Linked DNA regions of Homo sapiens: region 1 is linked to region 2. The links come from fine-mapping of genetic effects on gene expression. Tissue or cell type: cerebellar hemisphere. Region 2 holds a variant in brackets; the other region holds the start of a gene. All regions are shown on one strand. Distances are from middle to middle.

Region 1 (8,171 bases), 28 kb after region 2:
TCCTCTGGCAAAATACACACTGCACTGCCTTCTACACCTCCTCTTAATCTGCTCATTGGGTCTTCAATCTTGTGGTAGCTTGGCTATGAGCTTATCTTCTCAACTAGATTGGAGGCTCCCTGAGGGCAGGAAAAAGATTTTGTGCCTGTTTCCCTATGGTCTCTGGCTCAGTCCCAGGCCAGAGCCAGTATTTGCTGATTTGTGCATGGGTTCTGCACTCCCCTGGCCACTGTCAGAGTGAGTGGGTAGGCACCCCTGGGCATGTCCCAGACTCACTGAGGTGGCAGGCTGTGTCTGTGGGCCAGAGAAGGCAAGCAGGAGGTGGGGCTGAGACTGGCAGGAGGCTGACCTGGCTTACAGTGCGGGCAGCATGCTCCTGGCTCAGGGCAGGGTCCTCTTGGGCATGGCTTCTGGTTGCAAGTGATGGTACCTTCCTGTGGGAGCAGACTGAGGTGGCTGCACAGACATCAGATTCCTGGAGGGCAGGGCCTCTGGAAGTAAAACCTCAGCCCAGGCTGGGACATGTCATAGGGGCAAGAGGATGAGTTGGCTCTGTGGATGTGGGCTACCCTCTGTGTAAAGGCAGAAAAGAGACATCCCGCCCCCACTCCCATCGTCTCCTGATGCTCTTAACCCTAGGAAACCATCTCTTCCAGGTGCCAGCACATTCCCCAGAGAGGGGAGATCCTAGGAAGAAGACCGAAGACTTTCTCAGGGAGGAAGGAGGAAGGAAAGACTGGGGGAAGGTGGATGTGGCAACTGGTGAGGGAGAATAGGCAGGCCAGGGGGTTCCGAAGTAGAAGATGGGCAGTGGAAGAGTGGGAGGTGATATAGGAGGACAAGCAACTATTAAGTTGGTGCAAAAGTAATTGCGGTTTTTGCCATTAAAAGTCATGTCAAAAACCGCAATTACTTTTGCACCAACCTAATACATTCTCTGCCCTCCATGCCACTGTTGGCCAGGTCTGAATTGAGTGGCTTGGGGACCCCCCAGTGTCCGTGGGCATTGAGCTCCTTTTCCTACTCGGAATCAACTGAAAGCCACCGTGGCAAGGTGTGGGAGTGGCAGGCAGAGCCCATTATGCGACATCTTGAGTGCCACGCTGCAGTGACAGGTAGCTGGAGAGAGGCAGACAGGTGAGGGATATCCAGGTAGGTCCTGGGAGCTTACCAGACAGCGGCAGGTGGTGCAGGCATCTGGGGAGAAGGTCTCCCCGTTGCCGTAGGTCTGGCCATTTTGGCTGCAGCCTAAGGAGACAGCAGTGTCACTCAAGCACCCCATGCCATCTGCAGGTCTTTAGGTGGCCCCAGTGGGCGGATAGGGTGGCACTTACCCCTGCAATGGGGCAGGTGTGCTTGGGGGCCACAGTGAGCGGCCCCATCCTGGCAGACGCAGGCTGTGCAGGCGTCAGGCTCCCAGCGTGCCCCCTCGGGCCAGGCACGCCCCAGCCCCCAGCACTGGGGAGATGCAGGGTGGCACTCACAGGACTCCAGCTGCCTCACCCTCGTCTGCAGGTCCTTATTCTGGAGGAAGGAGATGGAATAGCAGGCACTGGCTCAGCTTCCCCCACCATCTCCAGTAGAGATGAGGGGTGTGAAAATGAGGCAGGATGAGAAAGAAGTTCGCCAATTCCAGAGCAGAGATGGGTCCCCCTCGGTCAGCATCCAGCTCAAACGATCACCATTCTCAGGGGGGCACGGGCCCCAATCTCTCCTTTGGACAAAATGGGGACCCAACCCTTGCCCCAAGAATTAAAGACATCTTTACCCATCCAAAATATTTTTGATGATGCCTTATATAGAATGCATTCCATAACATTCCCCAAATACATGGAACAGTACGAAACACGAACTGACAAAACAAATAGCCTGGAGGTTCTTCATTTGCATGAAAGAATCAATGTTAAGAATTGTTCTGGCCAGGCCTGGTGGCTCACACCTGTAATCCCAGCACTTGGAGAGGCTGAGGCGGGCAGATCACCTAAGGTCAGGAGTTCGAGACCAGCCTGGCCAACGTGGTGAAATCCTATCTCTACTAAAAATACAAAAATTAGCCGGGTATGGTGGTGCACACTTGTAGTCCCAACTACTCAGGAGGCTGAAGCGTAAGAATCACTTGAACCCAGGAGGCAGAGGTTGCAGGGAGCTGAGATTGTGCCACTGCACTCCAGCCTGGGTGACACATGGTGACTCCATCTCAAAAAAAAAAAAAAGAAAGAGAGAGAGAGAAAGAGAGAAGAAGGATGGAAGGAAGGAAGGAAGGAAAAGAAAGAAAAAAAAAGAAAGGAAGGAGGGAAGGAAAGAAGAAAGGAAGAAAGAAAGAAGAAAGAAAGAAAGAAAGAAAGAAAGAAAGAAAGAAAGAAAGAAAGAAAGAAAGGGAATTGTTCAGATAAGAGCTCTATTTTAGGCTCCCCCCTCCAAGCCTAACTCCTTCTCTCCCTCCCACTATGAGAAGCCCTCCTTACCCAATGCAAACCAGCACTGTCTCCATGGTACCTGTTCTCTGAGCTCCATCACTGCAGCCTCCAGTCGCCCCAGCCACTCTCGCAGGGGGTGCCACTGCTCCTGGGAGTTCCCAGCAAGGACTGAGGAATGGGCAGTTGTCTGCTGCCCAGGGGGCTCCCTGGGGACAGCCCCACCTGAAGGGCACAAGAATCCCATGTGGGCCTGAGGGTGAGGGGCTGGCCTGGCCACATTTTCTGGGTTCTGTCTTCTGACCCACAGGGGAAGGGGGTCATCCTGTGCACCCTGCCCTCTCCAATTGCCCACCCACCATCCAGGGCCGGGAAGCCAGCACAGGCTGAAACGCAGGGGAAGGCCACAGACATGCGCCAGGTGGAGCTGCTTTCAGGGGTCTGGGGTCTGGCTGAGAGTCTTTTCAGGGAGAACATGAGCAGCCCCCATCCCCTGACTCTCTGCACCTGTCAGAAAGGCCACAACTTTTGGAGAATGTGCTCAGGGAAGGACAACTGCTCCCGCCCCCAACCCTGAGCACGGTTTTCCAGGCTTGTGACAGGGGTTCCTGGGGGCTCCCACATTGGGTGGGGTGGGCTTCAAAAGTGGGACTTGGCTGCATTTTCTGAAGGGTGTGAGAAATGTGCTGGCAAGGCCCCTGCTAACTTTGAACACACCAGATCCAGTGAAGACAGCCTGTCCCTGCTTCTAGAAGACACTATGTCCAGGAAAGAGGGACGGGGCACCTCTGAGCTCTGGCCTGGGGTTAGGGGCGGCCACTTTCACCTTTTCACTTTGATCCTTCTCCTGCAGCCCAGAAAGTAAAGGCAGGAGGGGAAGAGGCAGACATAGGTCCCTCCTCCAGGCAGGGATGGGCAGGGAAGTTGAGGGTCTGGAGCGGAGGCAATAGGAACAGAGAGAGGAGGAGGGAGAGGGATGGGTCTTTCCCACCATGGCAGCTCATTAGTGAGGCCAGGCCTGGAGTGGCTTAAAAGGGTTTCTCACAGACACTAGGCCTGTGAGACAGGGGAACAATGTCACCCACTGTCACCATCAAAGGCAGAGGGGATTCTAGGCTAAAATTGAACTTGCTTTGTCCCAAGTTCCCTGGCTTGGTTAATGCCATCACACATACCCAGTTACTTAAGCCAGAAAGCTGGGGCTCAGCTCCCCTATTTTGTTGCCTGAGTTGTCCCCTAATACATCCCCCCCTTCTCCTCTCTCCACCATCTCCATTCAGAAGGCTGAAGACAAAGCGTCCCTGCCTCCATCTGTGCCCCTTCTCTCCACTCGACCTTTCTGAATCACACAGCCGAAGTCTCCCAGGAGCAAGTCCCGCTGGGATGGATCACAAGCACCGCCCACCTTTCCAGCCCCGCTACTTCTGGCTTATATCAGGGATTCTAACTCAGTTCCCGCACCCTGGGCGAATACTGGCCCTCAAACCCCAGGTGCCCTTTCCCATCTCCGTCCCTCTACTGGGGATCCTGTCACCCGGAATGGCACCCGGTCTCAGTCCTTCCCAAGCACACAGAGGGCGGCCACGATGGGCGTCTCAGCATCTGAAACCTTCTACCCAATCTAGACTCCCGTGGGGCCTCATCCTGCTGCCCAGGGCCCCTCCTCCCAGGCCACTCCTCCAGTTCTGCTTAAGTAGGCAGGCAGGATATGGGAGCCCGGGAGAAGCTGAATCCTCTGGGACCCCTAGGTGAAGCTAGGGCCAGCCTCGCCTGGAGAGACCTGCAGAAAGAGCTCCGAGTGGCACAAACTTGGCTGGTCCCCAAGGAATTGTCCCGGGTTCCCCTCTTAGCCTCCCCTGGCCCCGTGCCGGCACCGAGCCCTCCATTCCCGCCTGTCCTGCTCCGGGGAGGGCCAGACACAGATGCAAAGTCAGCTTCCACAGCGGGCCCCTTTTCTCCCCCTCCTTCGTCAAGACAAATAATTAACTTCAGACTCCCAGATGCCAGGGCAGCCGCACTCTCTCCCGCCGCCGGCTGCAGGAACCGCCCCCCTCTCCTGAACCCCCTGCTTTGGCCGTGGTCTTCCCCACCCTGCTCGCTCCCCCGACGGGGAGGACGGAGCTGGCCAGGGAGGCGCGCGAACCTCAGGCAGGGCTAAGAGCAGAGCCCCCAGCCCCTCTCGGCCCCCTCAGGCCGGGCTGATAGGAGGGAGGGGGCGCACCTGGCCGGACCCCAAGCCTCCCGCACCTGGACTCACCTTCCGCGCCCGCGGCCAGCGCCAGGGCCCCGAGGTGCAGGAGAAGGGACAGCGCAGCGGCCCCGACCCCGGCCATGCTAGCTCCGCCTCGCTCGGCTCGCCGTCTGTCGTCGCGGCTCAGCAGGCGCTGGGGAAGGCGGGGTGGGGACACACAGGCCGCTCCCACCCAGGCTTTGTTCAGGGAGGGCTCAAACCCCCCACCGCGCGCGCCTTTCCCATGCACACCTCCACCCGCCCCGGGCCCGGCCGGTCCTGACCCCAGAGAGCAGCTCCAGCTCGCAGGAAGCCCAACGGGGGTGTAGGCCTTGTCTCCGCTTAAGATCCAGGAGGAGACCCTGAAAAGAAAATAAACCCAAGTCCACCCCTCTCGGGATCCTAGAGAGTCTCCCTGCCCTTTTAGGTTACTCCATCGCCCTAGGGTTTCCAGATCGATTTTTCCTCTCTCTCACAAGTTTACAGAAGAAGCAGACTGAGCTGGGTTTAGATCCCTGCTCAGCCAATTCCATGTGGCCTTAGACCACTAACTTCTCTGTGCCTCAATTTCCCTATCTGTAAACTGGGGATCACCACATCTACTTTATAGACTTGCAGTGAGCATTAAGTGAGATTATATAAGTAAAGAATTTAGAGTCGGTAGAGAGATGGTAAATGCTCAGTAAATAACAAATAATAATAATAAGAACTCCTGATCTCTGAAATCATGGACACGACCAGTGTTTTCCTCTCTCCCCTATAAGTTTCTTTCCTGAACTCCACTCAACACCCCTACCCACCCCAGCAGTCCCAGGCTTGGCCCCAAATGCCAAGGCCGCCCTTCACTGGCTGGTCTCAGCCCCATTTCCCACTCCTGAGCTCAGGCCTGGCTGTGGGGTGAGCCTGGGTAGGGGGCAGGGCTGGGCCCTGGGCTCAGCAGGCAGAGGGGGCCAAAGGGAGGAAGTGAGGACAGCCGTCCCTGTGGGCCCACAGGCTGGGAAACTCCTCCTTGAAGCTGGGAAGCAGAGGGTTGGGTCTCACAGGCGAAGCTCACAGGCAAAAAGGAACATTGAGGGCGGAGCTGTGAACCCTTCCAAAGCTCTCCCTCCCTGTCATAAAGACCAGAAGTCGGAAGCCACCCCTCCCCCTAGACCAGGCAGGGACTGAGGTCTCCCCAGCCCACTCTCCACCAAGCTTAAAGCTTCAGTAAGGAGACGGCAGCTTCTCTGCCCCAGAGTCTGGGCCCATAGTGGACCTGAGCCTTTGCCACAGGGGGCAGGGAGGCTGCAATGCCACGCTAAGACCTGGCCTCAGTGCCTGGAGCTGAGGTCACAGAGGAAAGCCAGGGCCAGCCAGCCAGAAGAGGAACAAGGAAGCGGCAGCACTATTCCTGGCAGGTTTAAGGAAGGTGGCTTTCATTGACCGGGTGCCTCTGGAAAGCAAGTCCTCTGAGGGGCTGGGTAGTGGGACGGTTCAGAGCACAGATTCTGGCAGGGTTGCCAGGGCGCATCCTGGAGCTCTTGCTTTCTGCTCTGGGGCCTCTGGCTGGTCACTTCACTTTTGGTGGCTGATTTTTCTGAACTGTGACTGGAGCTCTAACAGCACCCACCTCATGGAGTGTTTGTAAGGATTAGTAATGCATGGTGCTTGGCACAGAGGTATGAGCAATTTTTACTTCCCTTATGAAGAATGGGGGCACCTCCATCCCCATTTTACAGAAAGAATCAGAGAGAATCAGGGTGAGCAGCTCTAAACCACACTGGGAGGATGCACAGGGCTTCCCTCGCCCCACAGTCCCCTTCCAGTCCCTTGTGTCTTAGCCTCTGCCACTGAGCCTGGCCCCAGTCGGCCCTCATATCACATTCCCAGGGAGGGACACTGTCCTGACACAGAAAAGGTCCTCCAACCCCTGGGGTGCGGTGGGGTGGGGAGGCTGGGCCTTCACTTCACCCCCAAGGCAGGTGTTTGTAGTGTCTGATTCTGTGTGTGTGTGTCTGGGTGTGGCACATTTGTGTGTGTGTGTGTGTGTATGTAATGTGTGTTTGGCTGGAGGTGGGGGCTGAGGCTGGGGAGGCACTTTTGGGACTCAAGGGACCTTGACTTTGAAGGGGCTTCCAGGGACACTTTCGTCACCCCACTTGACGATAAGGATGTAGTCCCTTTCTCCTTGACAGTGTAGGTGACATTGTACACCCGGTTCCCCATGTGCTTCACGTACACCTCCTCACAGGGGGTCTTGGGGCCGTGCACGCCCACCATCATCATGTTGGTGCCTGGAGAGGGAGGCAGAGGGACAGGCTCACACCAGGGAGTCCCCTACTGTGACCCACACCCTGCTCCCTGACGGCTTCTTGCTCACACCCCGGGAGACGCCCTCCCCCCGCCACCTGCCTGCTTTGCTGCAGTCCACGGTGAAGGAGTTCTTCTGGCCCACGAAGGCCTGGGACAGCCCAGGGCCCCGAGTCACCACCTTGCTGGCATCTGAGGAGAACTTGGGGATGGAGTTGTAGCTGGAGCCCCGGCTTGAGGAGGACTTGGTCACAGTCTCCACCAGAACCGTGGATGTTTCGTGAAGGCTGTGGCCTCCGGACAGCCTCGGACCTGAGGGGTGGGTGGAGGGGGCACAAACCTAGTCAGAAGGGCTTCCCGTTCTTCCCCAGGCAGGGGACCCTCGGCCAGCACTGCCACCCTGTGGGACTCACTGCCTGCATTTGAGGTTCCCCCCCAAATTCCTCCAAGGGCCACTCTAGGAGCACAGCCCCATTCCCAGCCAGGGCCCTGAGCTGCCAGCTCCAATTGGTGCTCCACCCTAGGGCTGGGGCCTCAGATGCTGCGTCCCTCATCCTTGCAGGCTTTGTCTGGGAACTCAGGCTAACTCACAGGGTAAGAGCCACTTTACAAAGGAACACCCACCCAACTCATCCTACAGACAGCCTCAAGAGGGGAAGCTTGCTCAATACCGACTGTGTCTTCTTGGAGCGGAGGAATATGGGAAGCCAGGAGGGAAGAAAGTGGTGCTAGAGCCTGAGGAGCCAGCGCAGGCCAGAGCTGAAGGAGTGAGGGGCCACGATGGAGAGGAAGAATGGCATTTTTACATGATCATGCCCGACTCCACAGAACGTGTACTGTGTAGAGCCAGGCCCACCTCTAGCCCTGGTAAACTGACCATGATGTCTGGGGGCAGACTATGGCCTAGATGTGCGTGGCCACCGGAGCCCTCCAGGCTGGGCTGGGCTGCAGGCTGGGTGGACCTCCCCCAAACCGGCACTCACCAGTGACCTTGGCCTTGAAGGGGCTGCCCACGATGTGCTGGGGGCCACCGTACTTGATGGCAATGAGGTAGTTGCCAGGGGCCATGGGAGTGTCAGTGACCACGTGGCCCTCAGGACACTCCCAACAGTCCAGCTGCACCTTGGTGGGGCCATCAATGGTGACAGACAAGGTCCCCGAGCAGGCGTTCAGGGCGTTCACATGATCTCTGATGACACACCTGGGGGCCAGAGGTAGCAAGGCTGAGGGCAGGAAGG
Region 2 (8,171 bases):
AGAACAGCAAATGAAGTACTGTCTACCTTCTTTTTGTCCCCATTTTACAGAAGGACAGACCAAGGCCAGAGTAGGTCAGCACTTGTCCAAGGTCACACAGCCAGTGAGTGGCAAAGCAAGGCTTGAGGGTTCAGGTAACAAGCCTTCTTTTTTTTTTTTTTTTTTGAGACAGAATTTTGCTCTTGTTGCTCAGGCTGGAGTGCAGTGGCACGATCTCAGCTCACCACAACTTCCACTTCCTGGGTTCAAGTGATTCTCCTGCCTCAGCCACCCGAGTAGCTGGGATTACAGGCATATGCACCACCAGGCTGGGCTAATTTTGTATTTTTAGTAGAGATGGGGTTTCTCCATGTTGGTCAGGCTGGTTTCAAACTCCCAACCTCAGGTGATCCACCCACCTCGGCATCCCAAAGTGCTGGGATTATAGGCATGAGCCACCCTGCCCGGCCAATGAGGCCTCTTTTGACAAGCCACCCTACCTCTCCAGCACCAAGACAGGCAAGAAGCCCCCACACCTCCCTGAAAGCCCAAAAGCCTATCTTGTGTGACTTCGCCCCCCTTCCCTGCTTTCCATGCCAGAGGGTTGCTCTGAGACTCATGCTCAGCTGCGTCTCCCCTAATCCCCATCCCCGGTTCCTGTACCACTCACCTGCCAGCTATTCCCAAACGCAGCCTCCGAGGGCAGGAGCAGCCCCTCAGGGCCCTGCAGATCGTCCTGGGCAAAGCCATTGAAGTTCCCACAGAGCCCACAAGTCCGGCCCTGGTAGGAGCCAGGTACGCTCACCTCCACCTGGGACTGCCCATCCCACAGCACCTGTGTGGAGAGGCCTGAGACTGGGGAGCAGGGAAGGACAGGGGCCTTAAGAAGCCCAGGGTCCATCATGGCCCCAGGCACTGTGTTCAGTGCGGCCAGTGCTGTAGGGGAGGAGAATGGACAGGTGGAGGCTCCCCTTGGAAGAAACACCACCCTGGCCAAGGCCAAGTGGATACATTCTGTGCCAGCCCTGGGCAAAGACAGATGACAGGAGGAGCTGCCCACAGCTCCTGCATGAGGGCACCTTCTCCTGCTGCCATCCCTGCACTGGGCCCCAGGTGAAATGCAACCCCCTTCCGGGGATTCACTTTCTCATGGGCATTCGGGCCTTGCAGAGGACAAAGCACAATTAGGGTCCGGATTAGAAGTGTACACCCTTATTCTACGAATTTACGAGTTGTGTTTCCTGCTGGGGGCAGGGGGCAAATTACTCTTCCACATGAGAGTTGGAAGGAACCTGAGACACCCCCCCAGGAGACTTCAGCTGACATCCTCCCCACTGCCACTGACCCTTCCCATTCCCCACTTTACAGACGAGAAATCTGTGGCCCAGAGGAGGCTGGTGGTGGCTTAAGAGGCTGAGCCGAGATTAGAAATCGGGCTCAGAACTCAGAACTCCTCTGACTGCCTGGGGAGATCTCTGACCCTGATCCACCTCCCCTCACACCCCTGTACCCCACTCCTTGCCTTTTTTGGCTAGGAGGTAGCTGGCATCCCCACCCCCTCTACAGATACAGAGGCCTAAACAGGACTGAAGCTCCCAGCAGGCAGCCCACCCAGACTCGCCCTGGAGCCGCACCTGGAGCCCGGGCTGGGCGTGCAGGATCACAGTGTGTCCTCGCAGCTCCACATACAGCAGCGGCTCCTGCAGGAAGGGCAAGGCCACCGGGTGCCCATCCACCTGGAGGATAAAGGAGGTGGGAGGAGGGGTGATGTCGAGGCACATGGGTGGACAGCACAGGATCCACCTTCCTCCACTCCTCGGCTTTGCTCACCGTGACTGCCCCGTCCTGCAGCAGCCGCACGGCCATGTCTCCCAGCAGCACCGCCACCTCCTGGGTCCAGGCCACACCGCTCCGGCCCCGGTCATCATTGGTCACGTGCACACTGTGGGCAGGAAAGTCCCAGGTGCCAATGGTCAGCAGGGCTGGGTGTAGGGGTTGGGGAGAAGAGAGACAGGGGATGCACACCTGAAGTCCCCGCTGTGGCAGTCCTTGGCCAGCACATAGCTGCAACTGCCCTGGAAGTGCAGCAGGCGGCCGTCGAAGGTGCGGTAATGGGGGTCTCCGAAGGCCATGCAGGAAGCGGGCCGAGGCAGGCAGCGGGGGCAGCAGCTGCCAGGACTCAGGGCAGGGGCCTTGTCCTGCACTCAGCCCCAGACACTGTCAGACACACCGCCCTCCCCGCCATGCCTCTCGCAGACCCTCCCAGAAAACCAAGCATCTCCCAGGAGTCTCCAGGGATCTCCAGGACTCTGGCTCCCAGGCTCCCTGTGAGTGAGGTCAGGGCACCACATCGTGGTCGCACTGGGAACAGCACTGTCCCCAGCTCCCAGCTGGCGGCAGGAGCCCAGCCTCCCTCTCTGATGCCTGGTCACACCAGGATGGCGGTACCATGTGCCCCCACCCTGACCCTCCCCACCATTTTAGATTGCGGCACTCACGGGGCCACACGAGAGCGGTGAGCAGCGCTGGCTCTGGCAACGCACGGTGCCCGCCATGCAGGAGCAGCTGGTGCAGGTGTCCACAGTCCAGCGCTCTCCAGAGGCCACCTCACGGCCCTGGTGCACGCAGGACTGGGTGGGAGCTGAAGGGATAGGAGCTGGGAGGGTCAGCTGCTCCTCCCACATGCCCAGAAGGTCTGGCTTACCCCTCCCCCATCACCCTGGCTGCGCACCTTGGCATCGCTCACAGCAGCTGTCAGCCTGGGGCACCTTCGCCCAGCCATGGGGGCAGGAGAGGGCCTGGCACTCCTCGAGGTGGCACTCCACATGGCCCCGCTGAGGACAGACATCATTGTTCTGGGGTTTTCTGCAGGGCCGGAGTCCCCAGCCTCATGCTTCTGGGGGCCTCTGGGCATGGACTTCTGCCTGCCCCTCCCACAATACATTCTTCACAGTTCAAGAGGGGAATGAAATCCAGCCTTCGGCTCCATGCCCCGGTGCAGGGATGCCCCTGACCCTTAAAGACCCCATATCTGCTGGTGGAGTGTTGGACACTCCTCCCTTTATCCATCTGCGAGATCCTCCACCCTCCCAGGCCCACCCCAGCTCACATGGCAGGTGCAGGCGATGCA[C/T]GCATTGCTGGGGTCCCGCCAGCTCTCTCCATCTGCCACTCTCCGGCCCTCGGCCTCCACCACACATTCTGAGGGGGGAGACATGGGATGGGCAGGCACTGTCCCTCCTGCTGTATCCTCCCTCCTTGGAGCTTACCCAGCATTTCACGGCAGGAAAGCACCCACTCCGTGTCCCTACCACCCTGATGGTGTTGATTTCTTCAGCCAATATCCACAGGGCCTATTAGACATCAGGCCTCACATCAGAGCTCAGGATGTCTCTAGGGTCCTAGGAGCCCAAAGGGCCAGAGGCTGGAACCCCACTCTGGGCCAGCTGCCCGCTCAGCAGTGCAATGCCCTCTTCATGGGCCTGGGGATCCTGAGCCCCCTGACAGGCATCAGGCCAGACCTTGAGAATCTAGGCTTCATCCCAGCTTCCCCCTGCCTCATGGGTCTCTTCTCCACCTCAAGAACAGCCCCCCTCCATTTCTAGAAAAGAATGAACCCTGCATTCTGTTCTAGAAACCGAGTACAAACCCTGGGCTGCCCGCTTGGCCCATGAATGCCTCCCCTTCCTGTGTTCCCCCTGGGCTCCTCTCTGAGGGTGGAGGCCAAGGCTGGGCACTTACCCCGGCATACGGGGCAGCAGCTCCCAGGGGGAGTGTGGCGCTCTGAGAGGGGACAGCTGAGCTCAGGACAAGCCTGGTGGATGCAGAGCCATGTCAGGTCCTGCCCATGTGAACACAAGAGGTAGAGAATGGCAGATCTCAGGGAGCTGGTGGAGGAGTAAGGCATAGGCAGGATGTGACAGTCAGGACAAGTGGGCAAATGTCAGGGCGAATGGAGAGCCCTGGAGCTGCTGCGGGAGAGGAGTGGCAGCCACAGCCCACAGAGAAGGAAGAAGAGGGGCTCTGTGAGTCCCCAAGGCAGGAGGGCTCACCTGGCACTGGCACGTGTAGCAGGGGTCTGGTGGGGCTAGCTCAGATCCCAGCAGGCCCTCTGAACAGTTACTCAAGGCCTCTGTGAAGACAAGAATCCAGAGTGCGGGACAGAAAGAGGGGCACAGGGCTGGAAATCCCAGCTGTCCCCATGCACTGTGTCCCCAGGTTTCTAACTCGAACTCCTGAGCATACCCATATCCCAGCACCTTGACTCCAGGGAGGATAAGTCCTCTTTCTCTTCAATTCAGTCAAGTTTACACGTTTTAAAAGAAACTTTGCTAGGCTATTATTTGGGGCCGGGTGGGGGTGCAAGGTGACTGGAAACAGACCAACCATGGCTTCCTTAGCCTGAGGTCACTAAAAATGGCCAGTCTGCGGCCTGCTCTCCCTCCCGCTATCTGTAATACAGTGTGGCTACAACTGCGCAGGGAAGCACACAGCCAGGCATCCCGGGTTCGAATCCTGATGCCAGCACTCAGTGCCTGTGCTTATTAGGTTGGATTAATCCACCTCTCTGAGCCTCAGTTTCTTAATCTGTAAAAAGAGATTAATAATACTTCCCTCACTGGGTAACTATGAAAATGAAGCGAGAGACTTTATTAAGAGCACCAAGTACAGTCTGTGGCATGGAACAGGTGCTTAATCAATGTTAGTCTTCTTCCCTTCCCCTGAAGCACCCCCTAGCAAGTGTTGATCAGAGCAGCCCTCCCTGATGGATGCCAGGGATGACTGCACAGCATTATGAACGTATTTAATACCACAAACTGTACACTTAAAAATGGTTAGGATTGTACATTTTAGTGTCTTACCACCATAAAAAACAAACAAACAAACAAACAAACAAAAAACAGAAAAGTCGGCGAGGTGGCTCACACCTGTAATCCAGCTCTTTCGGAGGCTGAGGCGGGTGGATCACCTGAGGTCAGGAGTTCGAGACCAGCCTGGCCAACATGTTAAAACCCCATCTCTACTAAAAATACAAAAATTAGCCAGGCTTGATGGCGCATGCCTATAATCCCAGCTACTCGGGAGGCTGAGGCAGGTGAATCCCTCGAATCCAGAGGTTGCAGTGAGCCGAGATTGTGCCACCGCACTCCAGCCTGTGCGACAAAGCGAGACTCCGTCTCAAAAAAACCAAAACCCAAATAAAAAAACCAAATTGGAGAAAATAGGATTATCATTAAAAAAAAAAGTATGTTTTTTCTTTCTTTTTTTTTTTTTGAGACAGAATCTCGCTCTGTTGCCAGGTTGCAGTGTAGTGGCACCATCTCAGCTCACTGCAACCTCTGCCTCCCGGGTTCAAGCTATCCTCCTGCCTCAGCCTCCCGAGTAGCTGGGACTACAGGCATGCCCCATCATGCCCAGCTAATTTTTGTATTTTTAGTAGAGACGGGGTTTCACCATGTTGGCCAGGATGGTCTCGATCTCTTGACCTTGTGATCCTCCCACCTTGGCCTCCCAAAGTGCTGGGATTACAGGCGTGAGCTACCAACCTCGGCCTGTTTTTTCTATGTAAGGATAACGTTCACCTGTATTGCAAAGGTAGGTTATCATTTCAGTGTTGGTATAGGACCAGAAACAGAAAAAAATTCCCTCCACAACAAATGTAAAATGGCTGTGTTAGGTAAACAACTATTAAATCCAGGAGACAGAAATTGGCCATCTTTCAATATTTGTAATAAAAATAAAACTGTTTCTTTACTTTTCCCCCCAATCTTAATAAATTTTTACTCTAACAACGACAACAAAAAAAGCTCGCCCACCCCTGTGGCTGGGCTACCCCCTGCCTGCCTGGGCCTCACGTCTCAGCACAACTGTCGCCCTGCAGCGCCACCTGCTGGCCAAGATGCTCCACAAACTGCACCCAGCTGCGGAGAGGCAAAGGGTTCCTGTCAGCTTCCCCAGTTCCCTTAGGGATGGTGCAGCCCTCGCCGGCCAGGCATAGGGTTCCAGAACAGTCCACTGGAGTCAGGAAGAATCTGGGGCTGGGACTGGTGAGGAAGGGCGGCAGGGGGTGGCAGCCCTAACCTCATATCTCATCTACCCCCACATCCCTGGACTCACCGGCACAGGTGGGACAGCAGTGCTGGGGCCCAGGGGGCAGGAGCTGGCTGGGGGGGCAGCCCACCAGGCTGGGACACTGCCGCCGGTGACAGCGAAGGCTGGGAGGCCCCTCAGGCTGTGGCTACAAGAATGAGTGAGCAGCGGTGGGTCCTGGGCCACAAAAACCCAGAGCTGCCCTTGGCCGGGACTTCCGGCCCCTCCCTCTGCCTGCTGCAGCCTCTTCCGGGACATGTCTTGGGCCCTGAACTCAAGGCTGAAGAGAGACTCAGTGTCTTCTAGACGTGCTCCTCACCCCATGCCCTAGTCTCTGAGATGATGTCTCCTTCTCCTTTAAGTCACTTGGGCCTGAGCCCTCATGTGACCTTTGATCCTCCGGCAGGCTCATGCCATCCTCCTCCCCAGGCCCATGGCTTAGTACCCTGACCTGTGATGTCATTTGCCTGCTCCAAGCCCTTCCATGGCCTTGCAAATAGAATCTCCACAATATGACCCCTAGCCACGTCCCAGGTGGCTCTCCGGCCATACACACCCGCCCTGCACTGCAGCCAGGGGGGCCACCTACGGCCTCCTGCACACTTGGAACCTGCGCTCCTTGTCTAAACCCAGACCTCCTGGCCCTGTTGGCCCCAACCCTGCCTTGTCTCCTGGCCACAGGGATACACTCCTTTGGCCCCCAGAGTGCCTGCTCCATGCAGTGACCAGCTTGGCTGGGCCTCATCCCATGCTGCCCACTCCCCCCCGACGAGGTGCCCCAGCCCCACCACTGTGCCCTCACCTACCTCGCAGATGCACACTTCACAGGGGTCTGCCCCAGGCTGGAAGCTCTCCCCAGGCTCGTACTTCCGGCCCTCATGCTCACAGTCTTTGGGGTGGAGTGAGAGCAGAACGGGACCAGGGGTCCTTCAGGCTGGCAGCGAGGCAGGGGTGGAGTCCTCTATCTCCAGCCTCCCCCTGATCCCAGGGAGTGGAGTGTGCACAAGGACGGAGGCCACTTCTCCAACTGCCTGTCTCTGCCACCCGGCCCAGCAGCGGCAGGGAGGTGTGGGCCCAGGGCTCCCTCCTCGCCTTTCCCCTCCCGCCCCAGGCTTCCAGTACCAGAGCATTGAGGACAGCAGTCATGGGGCCCTTGGCGGGGCTGGGCGCAAGAGCTGATGCACTGGATGCGTGCACAGGTGACGACGCCCTCGTGACACACACAGGAGGAGCAGGCACTGTCGGGGGGCACCCATCTACTGCCTTCGGGGTGCTCTTCCCCATGAGCCAGGCAGCCTGTGGTGCAAAGTGGGCAGGGACGAGCTCGGAGGTTGAGATCTGGACATCTGCTCCTGGCCCCCACCCTCAGTGGTCAGCTAGGCACGTGGCGCCAGGAGTGAGTTTGCAGGGATATGGCGGGAAGGTGCGATGGGGCAGAACTCCTGTCTGTTGTGGAGGGGAAAGGCACTGGGAGGGGTTCAGAACACCTGGGTTCTAATCCTGTTCTGTTCCTACCTGCTCTCAAGACCAAGCTCCAGGCAGCAGGCACTGCCCAGTGCAGCCCGCACCGGCCACAGACCTGGCATGCAGCAGCTGTGTCATAAATGCATGTGGACCAGGTGAATGGCTCCATCGCTAACCATGTGCCCAAGGTAACTCAGTCTCTCCGGGCCTCAGTCTCCTCATCTGTTAAATGGGGATTTCCTCTGTCCTGCCTCCCTCCCAGAGCAAGTGAAATGCTATGACAGTTCTGTGGTTCTGTAGAAACACCACCACACTGCGCAGGGTGTGGGACGAGGGGGCAGTGGGCAGGCTAAGAAAGGCTCAAGTTCAGAGCCAGATGGTCCAAGTGTCCATCTTGACTCTGCCACCTTCTCTACCTCTCTGTACCTCCACTTTCTCGTCTGTAAAATAGGAGGACTAAGAGTGCTTATCTGGTAAGTTGTTGTGCTGATTAAATGAGATAATACACGTAAAGTGCTCAGGGCCTGGCACATGCTACCTGCTCACTGAATGTCAGGTATCTTGATGATGATGATGATGGTGGTGATGATGATGATGATGATGAATGGGGTGTGGTTAGGAAGAGGGGCAGCTTTTTGTTT

Direction of the effects. Alleles are on the strand shown, and positions count from the first base shown. SD is a standard deviation of normalised expression in the study named.
For the expression in cerebellar hemisphere of the gene that starts at base 4,780 in region 1, allele T in region 2 goes with a lower level than allele C (small effect, 0.39 SD a copy in GTEx).

Evidence for each region. PIP is the estimated chance that this variant, and not a neighbour inherited with it, causes the effect.
Region 1: it holds the start of KCP, and the variant in region 2 is fine-mapped to the expression of KCP in cerebellar hemisphere (GTEx, PIP above 0.99). The same link has a PIP of 0.9 or more in cerebellum.

What each region holds. Positions count from the first base shown.
Region 1 is chr7:128,905,930-128,914,100 of GRCh38, forward strand. It overlaps KCP (kielin cysteine rich BMP regulator), which reads right to left and starts at 4,780. Exons shown (of 40, transcript NM_001366122.1): 1 at 4,672-4,780; 2 at 2,497-2,639; 3 at 1,335-1,524; 4 at 1,172-1,248; 5 at 350-434. The coding sequence starts at 4,747. It also overlaps the pseudogene LOC392787.
Region 2 is chr7:128,877,909-128,886,079 of GRCh38, forward strand. KCP (kielin cysteine rich BMP regulator) reads right to left here. Exons shown (of 40, transcript NM_001366122.1): 27 at 7,189-7,362; 28 at 6,873-6,955; 29 at 6,094-6,214; 30 at 4,029-4,108; 31 at 3,718-3,817; 32 at 3,089-3,177; 33 at 2,711-2,813; 34 at 2,478-2,620; 35 at 2,005-2,177; 36 at 1,810-1,921; 37 at 1,614-1,715; 38 at 650-814. Among named protein-coding and RNA genes, the nearest start is that of SPMIP1, 16 kb to the left of the region's middle. RefSeq lists a silencer at 5,727-6,021 and enhancers at 5,767-5,876, 6,327-6,586, 6,811-7,410. The variant C/T (reference allele first, on the strand shown) is at 3,110.